2 linked regions of the Homo sapiens genome follow. The protein of the gene in region 1 purifies or fractionates together with the protein of each later gene. This does not show direct contact. Each region holds a gene or a part of one and is shown in the gene's direction. Other genes may lie near its edges.

Region 1 (3,500 bases):
TATGGTCCGTTTTGACAGTTGCATATTCCTGAAACTTGCCTTTGCTCCTAGTCTAGTCACATTGGGAAGAAGGCGCAGGGTTGTGGCTAGGGTAGCTGTGAGGGTTGGATTGGGTTACTTGTTTGCAGCTGTCTTTAGAATGTAGGTGACTGGCCAGCTGTGGTGGCTTAAGCTTGGAATCCTAGCACTTTGGGAGGTCAAAGAGGAGGTGGAAGGATCACTTGAGTCCAGGAGTTTGAGACTAGCCTGGGCAACATAGTAAGACCTTGTTTACACAAAAATTTTTTTAAAAGGCTGGGCTTGGAGGCTCACGCCTGTAATCCCAGCATTTTGGGAGGCCAAGGCGGGCGGATCACGAGGTCAAGAGATCAAGACCATTCTGGCCAACATGGTGAAACCCCATCTCTACTAAAAATACAAAAATTAGCTGGGTGTGGTGGCACATGCCTGTAATCCCAGTTACTCAGGAGGCTGAGGCAGGAAAATCAATTGAACCCGGGAGGCGGAGGTTGCAGTGAGCTGAGTCACACCACTGCACTCCAGCCTGGGTGACAGAGTGAGACTCCATCTCAAAAAAGAAAAAAGAAGAAAGAAAGATTTAGGAGGTAGCACCGATCAGACATGAGGGCATAGGAGAGAGAGGGGGCTGGGATGATGCCCTGGTTTTAGGCGTGGGTGACGGGGGCTGTGATGTGGTTCATTCTGGGGAACACTCGGGAGGGGGCGGGGTGGGGGAAGAAGGAGGTGGTTTTGGGGGAAGGCAGTGTGCCCAGTTCGGGCATATTCATTTGAGATACTGGTTTCGTTTGCATTGTGTCACTGAGCATTTACACACATTCTACAGTACAGTGTGTTTTTATCCACATCACACCCTCTTCCCAGCCAAACCCACACAACCGCAGAAAAGGAAGCTGGTTTAAAAACAGCAGGAAGAGGGGTTGATAGATTTGCTATGGGATTTTTGTGGGGTTTTTTTTGTTTTGTTTTGTTTTGGTTTTTTTTTGAGATAGCATCTCTGTTGCCCAGGCTGGAGTACAGTGGTACAATCTGGGCTTACTGCAACCTCCACCTCCTGGGTTCAAGTGATTCTCCTGCCTCAGCCTCCAGAGTAGCTGAGATTACAGGCGTGTGCCACCACGCCTAATTTTTATATTTTTAGTAGAGATGGGGTTTCACTATGTTGGCCAGGCTGGTCTTGAACTCCTGACCTCAGGTGATCCACCTGCCTCAGCTTCCCAAAGTGCTGGGATTACAAGCATCAGCCACCATGCCTGGCCTTTTAGCGAGATTTTTAAGTGGAAATTGAAAGGGGGATTTCATTTGGCACCAGCAAGCTGAGCGTCCATCCGGGTTAGGGGCAGCCCACATGCTGGAGTAAATTGGGCCTGCCCGCAGGCAGTGGGGGGTCATGCATCTCCGTGTCACAGGCTGGAGAACTGGCTCAGCTTGGTGTCTGTTCTTTACTAATGGCTTTCGAAGCTGGTAGCTTGGGAAGGATGTGGGCTTGCAGAGGGTTCACTGCCGTGGGGAAGGGAGTGAGATGTGCTGAGTTCAGGTGGCTCTGAAGGACCCACACGCCTGAGGTCCTTAAAATGTTATTTCTGAGTCAGACTTAGAGCCAGGGGACTTTTGGAACTGATTTTGATCTTTGGCAAAGGTCAGCATTTTCTGTGGTGTAATAATGGAGAAAGTGGTCTCTAATCAGAGCCTCATGGAAACATCAAGTTATCCAGTTGGAGTGGATTTCTCTACTGCAGAGCTTCTTTGAGATTTTTTTTTTTTTTTTTTTTTTTTTTTTTTTGAGATGGAGTTTTGCTCTTGTTGCCCGGGCTGGAGTGCAATGGCACAATCTTGGCTCACTGCAGGCTCCACCTCCTGGGTTCAAGTGATTCTCCTGCCCCAGCCTCCCGAGTAGCTGGGATTACAGGCGTGCACTGTCACACCTGGCTAATTTTTGTATTTTTAGTAGAGACAGGGTTTCACCATGTTGGTCAGGCTGGTCTCAAACTCCTGACCTCAAGTGATCCACCCACCTCAGCCTCCCAAAGTGCTGGGATTATAAGCATGAGGCACTGTGCCCGGCTATTTTTTTTTTTTTTTTTTTGAGAGACAGGCTGGAGTGCAGTGATGCGGTCATAACTCTCTGTAACCTCAAACTCCTGTGGGATCCTCCCACTTCAGCCTCCTGAGTAGCCGGGAGTACAGCCATGTGCCACCATGCCTGGCGAATTTTTTATTTTTTGTAGAGACAAGGGTCTTGCTGTGTTACCCAGGCTGGTCTTGAACTCCTGGGTTCAAGCGATCCTCCCACCTTGGCCTCCCAAAGTGCTGATATCACAGGCATGAGCAGCCACTGTGCCCAACTTCTTTGAACCTTTGATTGCTAATGTACGTGTTGTTTCCGAGAGAGGAATCATAGATACAGCTGTCCGTTTGTACAGTTGTCCAGTATCCATGGAGGTTGGTTCCAGGGCCCCCAATAGATACCAAATCCTTGGATCTTCAACTCCCTGATACAAGATGGTGTAGTATTTGCGTCTAACCTAAGCGTATCGTCTCGTATACTTTATTTATTTGAGACAGAGTCTCACTCTGTTGCCAGGCTGGGGTGCAGTGGCATGATCTCATCTCACTGCAACCTCCACGTCCCAGGATCAAGTGATTCTCCTGCCTCAGCCTCCCGAGTAGCTGGGACTACAGGCATGCACCATCATGCCTGGCTAATTTTTGTGTTTTTCGTGGAGATGGGGTTTCACTCGTTGGCCAGGTTGGTCTCAAGCTCCTCACCTCAGGTGATGCGCCTGCCTCGGCCTCCCAAAGTGATGGGGTTACAGATGTGAGCCACCTCACCTGGCCCCTCTTGTGTATACTTTAAATCATCTCTAGATTATTTATAATACCTAATACAATGTACATGCTATGTAAATAATTGTTATACTGTATCGTTTAGGGAATAATGACAAGAAAAAAAGTCTGTACATGTTCTGTACAGATGCAACCATGAATTATTTTTCTGGATATTTTTCATCCAAGGTTGCTTGAATATATGGATGTGGAACACACAGATTGCATTTGGTTATCTGAACCCCTGAACCCTTTTCTCATAGTGCCTTATGGGGGACTAGTGTTTCTTAGAACACACTTTGGGAAATGTAGAGATAATCCTTGTCTGTGTTTCAAATAAACGAAAGTTTTTTGTTGTTGTTGTTGTTGTTTTGTTTTTTTTTTTTTTTTTTTGAGACGGAGTCTCATTCTGTCGCCCAGGCTGGAGTGCAGTGGCACAATCTCAGCTCACTGCAAGCTCCGCCTCCCAGGTTCATGCCATTCTCCTGCCTCAGCCTCCCAAGTAGCTGGGATTACAGGTGCCCGCCACCATGCCCGGCTAATTTTTTGTATTTTTTAGAAGAGACGAGGTTTCACCGTGTTAGCCAGGATGGTCTCGATCTCCTGACCTCGTGATCCGCCCACCTCAGCCTCCCAAAGTGCTGGGATTACAGGCT
Region 2 (3,500 bases), on another chromosome or scaffold:
CCTACACAACCATACAAGCTGAAACCTAAACATACTATAAAAAGGTTTTTAATAAAATTTTTAAATTCAAATGTAGTTCTCTGCTTGGTAACCTCCGGAGTTATGAGTTAGCCCCACAAACCATCTTGAATAAAGATTATTTAAATTTTAATTTCTTAATATCACTTGTCAAAACTTAGCTCAATACGGGGATGGATTGATCTGTTAAGCACTATATAAGGTTGAATATTTCTATAATTGATCAAATCTAAGATGAGTATTTTCAAGTGTTACAGCTCTTGTAGAATTTAACTGACAGGTTTTCCAGTTCTCACCTAAAACTCCCCACCTACAAAAAAGGTGAAGATTTTCTGATGGAAACTCTTAGGAATATGAACCATAAATCTCATTGGTTTAATTGAAATCATTTTTTTTCTTGGAATTGTCCCCCTTAAATAAGACCTGGATAAATAAAGTATTTCTTATCTATATTTTCCAAAAAGCAATTTTAAAATATGAAAAAGAAAAATGTCGGGCCGGTCGTGGTGGCTCACGCCTGTAATCCCAGCACTTTGGGAGGCTGAGGCAGGTGGATCACGAGGTCAGGAGTTCGAGACCAGCCTGACCAACATGGTGAAACTCCGTCTCTACTAAAAATACAAAAACTAGCTGGGCATGGTGGGGCGGCACGTCTGTAATCCCAGCTACTCAGGAGGCTGAGGCAGGAGAATCGCTTGAACCTGGGAGGCGGAGGTTGCAGTGAGCTGAGATCACACCATTGCACTCCAGCTTGGGTGACAGCAAGACTCCGTCTCACAAAAAAAAAAAAAAGAAGAAAAAGAAGAATGTCACATTTCTAGTTTGAGTGACTGCCCCTTTTTTTAACATTAAAAAAAAAAAAACTTATCTGATCGGGAAAAAAACGCAAACACTTGAAACTAATGATGTAATCATTTTTCCATATATAATATTAAGATTTCCATATACCATTGATAGGAGATTAATGCTTTAACCAAGTTCTAATCCTAAAACTATACTGCTGTTCGAGATATCGCTGTAATACAGTGAGCTAATTTTAGATTTTTTTTGTTACGGTGGCCGATGTTTTAATTACTTTTTTTTTTTTAATGTCTTAGGTTCCTCCAGAAGAAATTAATTATTTAACACGAATTCACTACAAAGCTCAGTCTGATGGTATCTGGGGTGAACATGAAATTGATTACATTTTGTTGGTGAGGAAGAATGTAACTTTGAATCCAGATCCCAATGAGATTAAAAGCTATTGTTATGTGTCAAAGGAAGAACTAAAAGAACTTCTGAAAAAAGCAGCCAGTGGTGAAATTAAGATAACGCCATGGTTTAAAATTATTGCAGCGACTTTTCTCTTTAAATGGTGGGATAACTTAAATCATTTGAATCAGTTTGTTGACCATGAGAAAATATACAGAATGTGAATATGTAGGTAAATGATTACAGAAAAATTTATCTGCTTAACAAACTTAGAATGACTTTTTCCTTTTAAATTTAGTTCTATCATTAATTTATCATTAAATTTAGTTCTATCATTTGGTACTATCATTAATGTATTATATACACTGATACTTTAAAACTTGTGTGGAAAAAACTAACTTATAATTTTGTATCACACACCCTGGATATGTGTTCTGTTTCTAAGCGACATTTGTGAGAGATTATTGTAAAATGAGAGCGAGCAAATAAAACTTAATTTAATCTTTGCAGATACATACTTATGGGAAATTTGAACAAATGAGTGAAACTCTGTTTTTAGTAGGCTGTGATAAACATTTCCGGAGCACTTGCAGAGGACTTGCTATTTGCCAGGTGCTTTATGTATCATTAAATTTTTCTCATAGTTCAGAAAAATGTGCAAAGGAAACTATTGTCTCGCTCCTTCAAAACAGTCTTAATTAACTTTCATATTAGCAGATTAAACTAGCAGAGCAGGTTCAAGGGAAATTAAATGATATGGACCCTAATTTGTATCATTCTGAGTTGATTGTGTGGTTTATTCATTCTGGAAACATGTTGATACTTACAGTCAGCCACTGCTTTTGATAAGTGATATTGATTAGGTTGAATCTTCTTGTAAATAGTATTTACCAGTTAGCAAAGTCTGTGTTTTCAGAATTACAGTGAGCACAGAGGTGTTCATAAAATGGGAATTGAGTCCCACTCGGTAAGAGTTGCTTAAACTTGACACTGTTGACATTTGGGCTGGATAAAACCCCTGTGGTGGGGTCTGTGCTGTGCATTGCAGGATGGTGAGCAGCGTCCCTCTCATGTGACACCCACAGTTATGCCGGATGTTGCCAGATGCCCCTAGGGGACAGAGTCAACCCCCAACTGAGGACCACTGTCCTACAGAGTCAGGAAATATTGTAGGGAGAAAAAAATAACAACAACAAAGGCCTGTGTTAATGTTAAATAGATGAGATTATGGAATGTGTATATTAATGTTAAAAATTGTACCTTGATCAATGTACTTTTTATAAACTTGCCATAGATATCTCAGATTTGAAACCTCAAGACAGATTTATTATTCTTAAATGCTGTATGATAATGAAGAAAAATAAAAATTTATTTCTTGCAAAGTTAAATGTTTGTTAAATTCAATAGAATGACTCATTTATGGTTAACTTTGGGCAATTTATAATTTCAGACAAGACTGTTTAGCAAGTATTTTATTGAAAAGTAAAAAAAATTGCAATTTAATACTGTGTTTAGTTTGTTAAAATTTTGATACACTAATAGGATATTGCCTGTATAGTTTCCGTTGCATTTATAATATTGTTTCTAATTTTTTTAGTTTTATTTTCTAGGAAGTTTTAGGCTGAAAGCCACATATAATTAGTTATGTGATAACTATGAGTTGCCATGGCTACTGAATTGGACATGGGACCCTTAGACTGCTACCCAGCACCTTGTTAAGTACTTAGCAAGAGTTAGATACTACTGTTGTAATATTACTAGGATGCCATCCAGAAAATGTAAGGAATGTCTTTTGACCTGATAAACTCCTTAGAACTCCTTCATCTTTTATAAAGAGGAGTATCCCTCTCCTAGATATAGCTGCTTCTGACCCCAAAGGCAGATGTGTTGGTTTTCAACTAGAAAGCTAAATGGTACCTATAAATTTTTTTTTTCTTAAACTGTTTTAAACTCTTAATCTTCAAAATATATACTTCTTTGATTCTGGTCAAACCATTGCCAACTCCTTTAAGGACAAAGTAGAGGTGGCCTTCTAATAATTGCTGATTCTGTTTCCCTACCTATATTATCAAGAGAACAAGACCAAAACAGAAAATGGTATAATAGGAAGGAAGGCACATTTTCTTCTTACTTGGCCCTGGCACCTGGGGACAAGTCCAGGTCGTACCCGCAGTGCATCCCTGTGGGAACTGCCCTCCACCTGCTCCCTGGGGACACGTCCAGGTCGTACCCGCAGTGCGTCCCTGTGGGAACTGCCCTCCACCTGCTCCCTGGGGACAAGTCCAGGTCGT

Evidence for each region. Proteins that work in one complex are often made in the same cells at the same time.
Region 2: the proteins of STYXL1 (region 1) and IDI1 purify together in Homo sapiens (affinity purification with mass spectrometry, with the first as the bait; one large-scale study listed by BioGRID). This does not show direct contact.

What each region holds. Positions count from the first base shown.
Region 1 is NC_000007.14:76,006,501-76,010,000, reverse strand, and holds part of STYXL1 (serine/threonine/tyrosine-interacting-like protein 1), read left to right. Parts: intron 1-3,500.
Region 2 is NC_000010.11:1,039,120-1,042,619, reverse strand, and holds the end of IDI1 (isopentenyl-diphosphate Delta-isomerase 1), read left to right. Parts: intron 1-1,115; coding exon 1,116-1,433; 3' UTR 1,434-3,201; downstream 3,202-3,500. UniProt on the Homo sapiens protein: Catalyzes the 1,3-allylic rearrangement of the homoallylic substrate isopentenyl (IPP) to its highly electrophilic allylic isomer, dimethylallyl diphosphate (DMAPP).